Linked DNA regions of Homo sapiens: region 2 is linked to region 1. The links come from fine-mapping of genetic effects on gene expression. Tissue or cell type: whole blood. Region 1 holds a variant in brackets; the other region holds the start of a gene. All regions are shown on one strand. Distances are from middle to middle.

Region 1 (5,140 bases):
GAACTCCTGACCTCAGGTGCTCCTCCTGCTTCGGCCTCCCAATGTCCTGAGAATACAGGTGTAAGCCACTGTACCCAGCCGAGACCCTATCTCTCTCTCTTTTTTTTTTTTTTTTTTTTGACCCTATCCCTTTTTTTTTTTTTTTTTTTTTTAAGACAGAGTCTTACTCTGTCACCAGGCTGGAGTGCAGTGGCACAATCTTGGCTCACTGCAACCTCCGCCTCCCCGGGTCCAGTGATTCTCCTGCCTCAGCCTCCCAAGTAGCTGGGACTACAGGTGCGAGCCACCATGCCCAGCTACTTTTGTTTTGTTTTGTTTTGTTTTGTTTTTGAGATGGAGTTTCGCTCTTGTTGCCCAGGCTGGAGTAGCTGGGATTATAGGCATGCGCCACCATGACAGCTAATTTTGTATTTTTAGTAGAGACAGGGTTTCTCCATGTTGGTCAGGCTAGTCTCGAACTCCCGACCTCAGGTGATCTGCCCGCCTCAGCCTCCCAAAGTATTAGGATTACAGGCATGAGCTACCGCGCCCAGCCCACCCAGCTAATTTTTGTATTTTTAGTGGAGACGGGGTTTCATGATGTTGGCCAGGATGGTCGCAATCTCCTGACCTCATGATCTGGTCACCTTGGCCTCCCAAAGTGCTAGGATTACAGGTGTGAGCCACTGCACCTGGCCCCCCTATCTCTTTAAAAAAAAAAAAAAAGAAAGAAAAAAGAAGAGAAAAGAAAGGAAAAGAAATCTGCTCTGCTTATCAACACCCACCCAGGTCAACTTCACACCCGGAGTTGAAGCTATAATCTCCCCAAGACATACATACTCACACCCAAGTGTACCCACCCAACCACAGAAGCATACCCCAGGAGACCTGGGTCTCAGCCACAATTCACCCACAGAAGCACAACCAGAGATTCACCCCCTCTCCTGGAGTGTGTCCCACCAGTGGGTTTCAATCCTAGCTCTGGCTGTGGGACCTGGGCCCCTCCCCTTTGTGATCTGAAGCTCACTCTCCCCAGCCTAGAATGGGGCTGGTTTCCCTCTCCTAGGCAGGGCAGCCTATGGCTCTAACTCCTCCCTCTCACAGTCCCCAGTCAGCCCTTCTCCCTGCCTGTCTCGCAACTGGACACATATTGAGCCCTGGCTGTCCTTGAGAGCCTCCTGGCCTGGGGGAGAATACTGAGGGGCCCACACATGTCAGGGACAGAGATGACAGCTGTTGGACCCTTTCTGCAACTATATACAGGGCAGTCTGTGCAGACCCATCCCTGTCTACCACTGGAGAGGGTCGGCAGAGAGGGGAAATGGCTTCTCCAGGATGCCCAGTCCAGCCCACATTCCCCACACAACTTCCAGGCCCACGTGCAGCCCTCCCTACAGCTGGTCCAGGCTCCAGGAATGAGGAACCAGCCCCATTCTAGGCTGGGGAGAGTGAGCTTCAGATCACTAAGGGGAGGGGCCCAGGTCCCACAACCACCCCAGGAGACCCAATCGCTTGCCACCTGGGTGGCCTGAGCGCCCATGGGGTCCCACTGTGGGGCCTGGGCGTGATCCAAAGAGCATGAGCTTTGACATTTAACATTTAACAAGCTCTGCAGCCCTGGGGACTCAGTTTTCTCATCTTCAAATGGGGATACAGTGCACACTCAGCCCAGGCTTAACACTTCACATGCAAGGGAGCAATTATGAGACTGAGAGAGGTCGTGTGACTTGCCCAAGGTCACACAGCTGGTGAGAGGCAGAGCCGGGATCTTCTGCCAGAATGCGTGCATGCATGCACAGAGTGCTGCGGCTGTGCCCTCTCCTAGGCCACCCTGTCTGGTCCCTGGCTGCTCTGGCTTTTGCCTTGTGGATACAGGGAGGAAAATCAGAGTTGGGCAGCTGCAGCCCAAGCTCAGGATCCTGGGACTTGGGGCAGGCAGGTGGGCGGGTGGTTCTGCTCTGCCCCTGC[C/T]AGGAAAGCCTGGACATCACCTGAGGCTAGGTAGGGGTGGGGTGAGGAGAGGCAGTGCTTTGGCTGCTGTCCCGCTGGACTGAACAGTCATCATCATCATCATCATGAGCTGGTAGAGCCCTCTTGAGGCTGGGGTGGGGGCTATTATAATCCCATTATCCGCAGGAGAATACTGAGGCTCAGAGGAGAAGAAAGGGCCTTTCCCATGCAGGTGAGTCCAAGTCTGACCCCTCTGGGAGCCTGGAACAGTGTGGGAATTCAGGGAACCTCAAGTGGGTGGCAGGGCAAGATGGAGACCGTGGGTCCTCCCCGCCGATCCATGGCAGGCACCCATTTGTCCTGCTCCACTCCTTTGCATGCCCCCACTCGTGTCCACTCTGAGGCAGGCTGACAGACATCCCAGGGGCCCTCCCAGCTTCAGTCCCCACACACTGAGTCCTCTCAGATGCATCACTTCCCTTCTCTGAGCCCCCTTCCAGGCAGATCTGTAGGGACTTTCTAGGTTCACTGAGCATGTTTGTGTAGGTTGCTCACTGCACAAAGGCACCTGGGAGAGAGATCACACCCCACTCTGCTACACCGTGCACTCTGGTGAGGCTGCATGTTGCCTGGAGGAGAGACGTCTTTCCCTAGCTGGCAAAAAGGTGCTGTGGGGGCCGGTGCAGCCCTGCGGAGGAGAGCCTGTGAGAACGCATGTGTGCGAGGGTTCACACCCGGAGGGCACTGGGCCTCTTCTGTCCAGCCTGTGAGTTAGGGCTCCCATGCAGGTGACTGATAAGGAAACCTACAGAAGAGCTGCCCAGAAAACAGTCTCCTGAGTAGGAAAGGCAATGACTGAGCCCCAGCTGGAGGGACGCTGCTGGAGACCACCGGCTCCTAGGGTCTGTGTCCAGGGTGAGCCACTGCCACCGCGCCCCCGCAGGCTCATGACAGACCCTCGGCCCAGGGCTGAGGCTGCTGCACCTTGCTCCTCTATTCTCCCAGGCAAAGAGCTGAACTGTGGAGGGCGGGGAGCTCCCAAGTGGATTTCAGGGACAAGTGCCCCCTGACCCCGGCCACCCTGCCCGCTACAGTGCCTGAGATTCCACCAAGACACTCCTCGTCTAAGGATAAGGCATAGTCTACACAGCACAGAGCCTTGCCTCTGCATTCCAGCCGGCTCTGCCTTTCACTGTGGGCCTGGGTGAGGTCCTTGTCCTCACTAAGCCTGTGTCTCTAACAGGGATATCAGGGGCCACCTGCAGAGAGAGGGCCTAGGGGCGGGGGGTCTGGGAAAGGGTTTTGTAAACTACAGGTAAGGAGGCTATTATTAAGTTGCAGGCACCCCAGCGGGGTAAGGAGGAGTGGGCAGAGGAGGCTCTGGAGCGCGCTCTAAATCACGGGAGTCTGGCTATTGCCTCATTCACACACTGAGGGGCTGGTGCAGGATTGGGGGTAGAGCGGGGAAGGAGCAGGAGAAAGCACTCCCAGGGGGCTGCCCAGGGGGGAGCTGCCAGTGGTTGGGGCAGGGCTAAACCTTGGGTCTGCTATGGATAGATAGTAAGGCTTTCTGCAAGTTCCTGCTCCTCCTGAGCCTCAGTTTCCCCCGGAGAAACGACAGATAAGGAAGGGTCTGGGCCGCCATGATTCCCTCTTCCAGGGGTTAGGCTCCTTGGGAGTAGGACAAGTCTGCCCAGGACCCAGGACCTGGCACTTGCCACATAGACGCAGCCTGTGGCCCTGTCGCAAGAACATTCCAAACCCAGAGTCTGACAGGTGACTCCACTGACACCCCACCCAATGGCCACCCCTGGAGCCTGGGCCTGCAGATGCCTCCCATCCATATGGAGTCCTGCCGTGTTCCCCATCGAAGGGAGGGCACTTGGGAATGGACACTGCGGGACACACGCCTGTGTCGGAACCAGCCCTGTTGCCCTGGCGATGGCTCAGGTCCTGGGCACCCACGGGGGCTATTAGTGAGTGTGGGAGGGGGTTTCCATGGTGGCGGTCCCGAGGGGGCAGACGCAGGGCCCAGGGAGGGGTGAGGGCTGGCGGGACCTTTCTCCTTTGTCCGAGGCACACTAGGCCTTTGTTCTTGCCTGGATCCCTTTGACAGATGTGACTAGAACCATGGGTGCGGGGAGGACTTGGGTTAGAGTCCCCCATCCCAGCGAGTACTGAACCACCCTGGAGGGAGGGGAAGGAGGGCAGAAGAGGGGGTAGAGCCCCTGGACTCGCCATCCACTGGGGCGCCCTCCTCCTGCAGGTGCAAAAGCCACTCCTGTCCCCAGAGGCTGGGCAGGGCAACTTTCAATTGGCTCTTATTACTGTAAACACCTTCCCCAGCGGCCAGTGGGCAGCCTCGGTGTGTCCCCAGGGCAGGACCAGGAGAGGGCGGGGCTGGGAAGGGCAGATGAGGGAGGAGGGGAAGGGGCTGCCTGTCTGGGGTTGGGAGGAGGGCATTTGATCCAGCGCCATCCAAGGCATCTGTTCAAGAAGATTTTATTCCTGGTGCCCTCTGGGGTCCCTTGACTCAGCCAACCCCTTCCCTGACTCCTTTGGTGCTGGCTTTGGTACTTGTGAGGGCCTGGGCACCAGGACGGTTCCATGGGTCCTCACGTGCCCCACTCTGTGACCCTCCTCCATGCTAGTGCCTGACCCAGTATGTACCACGGAGGACCTCCTCCTTCCCCACTGCCTGGTCCTTGCCAGGAAGGAAGCCAAGTCCCCGAGTCCCAAGAGTAAAGTGCGGTGCCTATTTGCCGGGCCGGCATCAGCCATCAGGCAATTGAGACTGGGGGACACTAAGTCCATGGTCCTCTCAGAAGCGGGTGTCCAGGAAGGAGGTGGAGCCTCGTTGGGGCCTGGGGGGCCCCTCGATGGGGGGGCCCCGGGCCCGAGTCAGGAGCCCATGGAAAGTCTTGCCGCGGGTCTGGGGTTTCCGCCGCGGTGGTCTGGGCTCCTCCGGGGGCTGCACCACAATCCGAGGCACCTCAGGCTTGGCGCCTCGTCGCACTCCTGCCAGCTGCTGGGCCTCAAAGATGGCTTGGGCCCCGGCGAGGCGGACCTGTGGCCGGGGCGGGGGTCCCGGCGCGGAATCGGGCAGCTGGGCCAGCTGGGCCTTGATCTCCCGCTGCAGGTCCCGCTCTGACAGCACCACGCTGTGCACCTGTGGGGAGCAGTTGGTGCTGCGTTTGCCCGGCCTCAAGGCAGG
Region 2 (5,140 bases), 120 kb after region 1:
TTTTTGAGACTTGCTCTGTCACCCAGGCTGGAGTGTAGTGGTGCAATCTCGGCTCACTGCAACCTCTGCCTCCCTGGGCTCAGGTGATTCTTCCACCTCAGCCTCCCGAGTAGCTGGGACCACAGGTGTGTGCCACCACTCCCAGCTAATTTTTGTACTTTTTGTAGAGACGGCTTTCACCATGTTGCCCAGGCTGGTCTCCACCTCCTGGGCTCAAGTGATCCGCCCACTTTGGCCTCAGAAAGCGCTGGGATTACAGGAGTAAGCCACAACGCCTGGCCCTTCATCAAGTCTTGACGCACTGCTATGGCTCAGCTACGCCCAACCACTCTGCCCTGGAGAGGGTGGGCCAAGTGGGGCACTACAGTGGTCTTCAGACAATGAGGCTGTAAGCACCTGGAGGTGGAGGGCCAGCCTCAACCTGGCCATGAGCCTGTGCAGAGCCCTGGGGGAGCCTTTGTTTCCACTGGGTCTCAGAGTCCTACTCTGTAAAGGGGGCACAGTGGCTCCCTCCGAGCCTGCTCCTGGGGTAGGGGGTATGAGATAGTATGCTCTGCCAGCCAGGCCCCTCCGTGTGCTTCCAGAAGGGTGCGTAGTAGCAAGTATTCCAGGGTTTCAGGCCATAATCCACCGAGTCAACCTGAAGTCCCTGCTCCAGGTAATCTGCATTCTTCAGGAGGCCCAAAGCTGGCAAGGCTTCTCTTCCAAAGGGTCCAGTCTCTCCCACGTGAGCCTGGCCGTCTCTCTTTCCTACGTGACCCTGGGCTGGGGTCAAGATAGACAGACCTCCTTGCTGGTGGCAGGAGGCACACTGCACAAACTGGGTGCCTTTCCAAGGCCAGGCCTGGCACAGTAACCAGGGTGGTGCCCTGCCATGGTACCCCACCTCCATAACTGTGCCCTGCTGTACCTGGCGAAGTTTGTTGAGCAGTTCCGGAATGCCCGCCAGCCTCTGCGTGGCCCTCTGGTAGTCCCGATACTGGAGCACCAGCTGCACCATCTCGGGGTCTCCAGTGCTGACTGCCTCCTGCAGGACTGCGGGCACCAGGCTGCTGAGGGGAGCCCTCCAGATGACCCCAGGCCTGGCTGCTCACTGCCCCCCGCCTGCCAGCCTCAGGGGGAGCCCCTTGTCCTCTGCAGTACCTGCCCAGCCCTGGCGGTTCTCTTTGCCCACGTTGGCATTGTGTCGAAGGAGCACTCTCACAGACTCCAGGTTTCCCAGAGACACGGCCAGCTCCAGTGGGGTCCGCCCGCGGGGGTCCTCCTGTTCAATGTCGTGCTGGGGGAGACGGGACACTCACAAAGGGCAGGAGAGAAGAGGGCAAGGCAGGGAGGCTGCCAGGGCGAGCAGGGTTGGGAATCGCTGTGGGAAATAAGGACGGCGGACTGACCAGGGAGATGGCAGAGGGTGGCCTGCGTGTCCTGGCAGGGGAGAGGAGGGGGCAGGAGGGAAGGCAGGGGCAGAGCCGGGGTCTGGCGGCGGGGCCTGGTCAGGCAGAGCTGCAGGTTGTCAGGAGTTTGGCGGAACCTGGGGACCAGGACCAGAGTTCTTGTTCTCAGCTTGGGTCAGCAAGGATGCGGAAGCGAGTTCGGGCGAGCAGGGCAAGGCCCAGCGCAGGGGAGAGGAGGCCAGAGGCTCAGGCGCGAGGGGCCGGTGACCTGGGCTTGGGATCGTGCAGGGGAGGAAGGCCCAGGATGTGGCTGCGGAGCTGAGCGGGCGGGGGGGGGGGGGGGGCTCCAGGACGGAGGCCACAGCCTTGGGTGGGGGACCCGGGGGAAGGGCCGGGTGCCCCAGCGGGGCCTCACCTGGTGGCTGTGCAGTGCGGCCTCCAGTTCGCGATGCCGGTTCGCCCAGACGAGCCGGTGCAGCGGGAAGGTGGGGCCCGGGCCGGCCATGCTGGGCCTCAGCGCCGCATCCCGGCCCCGCCTCGGCTTCGGGCCTGGCACGGCCCCCTAGCCTCCCCTCCGAGCCGCGCCCCAGCTGCGCCCCCCGCGGCCCCCGCAGCAGTAGCGGCGGCGGCGGCGGCGGCGGCAGCGCGGGCGGCAGGGAGGGCGGGGCGGGCGGCGGAGCGGGCGGGGCTGCGCCGGGCCGGGGCGGGGCTTCGCGCGCGCCCCCGTCCCCCCGCAACCATGGCAACCGCGGCCAGGCCAGCGCGCGGCAGAGCAACCGCGAGCGCCCGAGGAGATGCCCGGCCTTGGGTCTGCGCCCCGACCTCGGTCGGGCCCGGGTCCGCTGGGGCGGCCTGGAGGGCGGTGCCCGGTTACAGCTCCGCCCGCGGCCCGCAGGAGGCGCCCCGAGCCCTGCGCAGACCCCCGGAGCCGGGTCCGGAAGAGGAAGGCGGGGCCGGAGGGGGCGGGCACTGGGCCCCTCGGTAGTGCACGCGCGTGCGCGGCGGGCCGCGGTCCTGCTGCAGCCGTGATGCCTGCGTTTCCCCCGCGGATCCCCTTGCTCGCCCCGGTCTTCCTACCCCAGGTCCCGCGGTCACCGACTCTGCTGGGGTGTGCGGGTGAAGTGGGGCGCCCCGGCTCCCCTCACCCGGCCTGGAGACGAGCAACGAGCAGACGCCACTAAGTGCTTGCCGGCTGAGCGGGAAGCACCTTCCCCTGGGACCTGGCCGGTGTCTGCAGGCCCAGCGATGCGGGGAGGCGGCCCCCGGGGCCCTGAAGTCAGGGATAGGAGTTCGGGGAGAGAGGGGCGCAGGCCCAGGCAGCGGCAGAGCCGTCCCGGCGGAGGACCGCCCGCGGCGAACGGCTGCCTTCGCCCGCCGCACGAGTCCCTTTTGCAGAGGCTGCGGTTGGCTGCCAGCGTCAGGAGAGGAAGGCGAGTTTCGAAATCAGGGCCGGCCCCTCCACCCACACCGGAACTAGGGTGCAGGCCTCCGTCAGCTCAGTTCCGGCCCTTGATTACTGGAGGCCCAGCCTGGGGTCTGGGGCCCTGGTTTTGCTAGGTGGCCAAGGCTGACCCTCTATTCTCCCTTTCCCTACGTGGAACATGATTGAGGAGGGCCAGCTAGCTTGAGCATCACTTCCTGCTGTAGGGCGTCCTCAGTTCTGAGACTCTGGGCTGGAAGGCCTGATTGCCATTTTTACCCTGCCTTCTCCCTGTAGTCACATGGCGCCTGTGCCATCTGGGGTCACTTTGCCACCCCACGCTATGGTGTCAATCTGTGAGGTCCTGGGGTTGGTAGCAGCCCGAAGGCTTCTGAATGCCCAGAGCTCACCTGCTCACCACTACTGCAGCCCTCCCTGGCCACCCCTTTTCTCAGAGGCGGTCCCTTCCCTGAGCCCTCTCCAAACTCAACCCCGACAGGACTTTCTTGGTTCCAGCCTCTCCTGATTTCTGCCATCTTGAACACAGCTCCCCACTGGCACTTAATTCCATGACAGTGCCTTCTCAACCCTCTTCCACGGCCTCCTCTCTCTCCCTGACCCCCACATCCCTGGGAGAGAGACTGTCCGTTCCCATTGTCACCCTGATGCCACCCCCAGGTCCACATTTCAGCTTACTCCAGGACATCTCTGTGCCCAGGGATCCCATGCTATCCCATCAGTATGTCCGAAGCCAACCCAACCACACCTACCCTCTTCCCCAGACTCCCGCCTCACTCAGCCCCAAGTCCAGCCTGTTTCTGCTGGACCACGTTCTTCCCGTCTGGCCTCTTTTCATCTCTTCCTCTCCCACTGCGGAGGTTTGTCTCCCTGCCTCCTGTCCTTCACCTCCCTCCCCACATCCTGTACTCAGTAACCAGGCAATCACTTTAGAGCCAGCTCTCACCACTCTCAGCCCTGTTCCGCACCTTCAAGGGCTCCCTGAGCATGGCAGGTCTGGACTCCATGTCGTTTGTATCTTCATTCTGCAGGCCCTGAGCACACACCTGGCTCCGGGATAGGTTAAGCCTGGCATTCAGTGCCTCCAGGCATGGCTCCTTCCTATAGTCCTCCGGCCAGCCTGGGCCACTCATGAGTCCCTGGCTCTTCCCTGCCTCAGAAATGTCCTCCCTCCTTCCCACACCAATGCTGGAGGCCTGGCTCAAAGGCCATTGCCCCTGACTCTTGTATTCAGCCCTGAGTACCCTGCCCAGCTGCCTGCCTCCCTTCTCTGCCTGGCATGCTGTGCTTTGGCCATGGGCCCCAGCCATGCCCAGCAAAGCCCTGTGTGGAGTGGGCAGCAACATGTATCTGTTTAGTCACCCGCGGGGCTAGGGCAGGGACCTGGGGAAAGGGAAGTTGACCAGAAGCCTCTGGGTAGAGGAGAGGCCTAGTGCTGGGGTTCCCCTCAGGCCTCAGGGACCCCTACTAGGGCTGTGCAGTGAGGCCAGAGAGGAGGCTGAAGCCAGAGATGGCCAAGGGCCCAGAGGCTGCGGTGTGACCTAGAGGGAAGAGGTGCCTTGTGACTGTTTCTGGGGAGGGGCCTCAGCTTGGTGCCTGCTGTGCAGGGGTGTTCTGTGGGCCTGAGACGGTCCCAGTCAGCCCAGACACTGTGCCAGGCCTAACACTGTTGGCACCTCCTCCTGCTTACCTGGGAAGTGGCAGAAGCTGCTCTCTCCTCCCCGGGAAAAGGTGAGGAATGGGCACTGGACAGCCACTAGGTGGAGAGGACTGTCAGCTGGGAGGGGTAGGAGGGGAAGTGGGACCCACTGCCTCACCCCACCTGGAAGATGGCCTGGGCCCGAGCAGACCACCTTGGAAGCCATGGCGGTGGAGGAGACCTGGTACCACCGAGACCCTCCCCATCAGGCCCCAGCCCAGCAGAAGCTGAAAAGGGGTCACCAGGTACAAAAAGAGTCTGAGACAGCCGAATCAGGCACCATTTTTTATAAAAACGCATAGTCTCATTTTTCACTCTTTAAAATCACATTCAAAAATCGGCAAAGAAACGCCCCGGGGAATGAGTAGACGGGAGGGGAGGGTGCGCCAACCCAGCCCCGGGGGGGAGAAGGCGCGACACCACACAGGCAGCGCGACTGGCACGAGGGGGCATGCGGTGGGCGAGGCGGCGGCACTGACAGGACGTGGGCTGTGGGGCTGGCCAGCCTGGGCGGGGGTACACTGATGGGCCAGGATGGGGGGCACACTGATAGGCCCCAGCCAGCCTCCTTGCTGTGCTGCCCGCCCACCTGGCCGGCCCCGTCCTGGGCAG

Evidence for each region. PIP is the estimated chance that this variant, and not a neighbour inherited with it, causes the effect.
Region 2: ANKRD13D starts here. The variant in region 1 is fine-mapped to the expression of ANKRD13D in whole blood (TOPMed, PIP 0.93).

What each region holds. Positions count from the first base shown.
Region 1 is chr11:67,409,362-67,414,501 of GRCh38, reverse strand. TBC1D10C (TBC1 domain family member 10C) reads right to left here. Exons shown (of 9, transcript NM_001369496.1): 9 at 4,413-5,095. The coding sequence ends at 4,748. Among named protein-coding and RNA genes, the nearest start is that of CARNS1, 3.7 kb to the left of the region's middle. RefSeq lists enhancers at 1,459-1,958, 1,959-2,460, 2,487-2,626. The variant C/T (reference allele first, on the strand shown) is at 1,948.
Region 2 is chr11:67,286,217-67,291,356 of GRCh38, reverse strand. ANKRD13D (ankyrin repeat domain 13D) reads right to left here and starts at 2,054. Exons shown (of 15, transcript NM_207354.3): 1 at 1,807-2,054; 2 at 1,144-1,279; 3 at 911-1,035. The coding sequence starts at 1,896. GRK2 (G protein-coupled receptor kinase 2) reads right to left here. Exons shown (of 21, transcript NM_001619.5): 21 at 4,801-5,140. RefSeq lists enhancers at 1-779, 780-1,704, 2,939-3,148, 3,899-4,148 and silencers at 1,699-2,468, 2,649-2,718.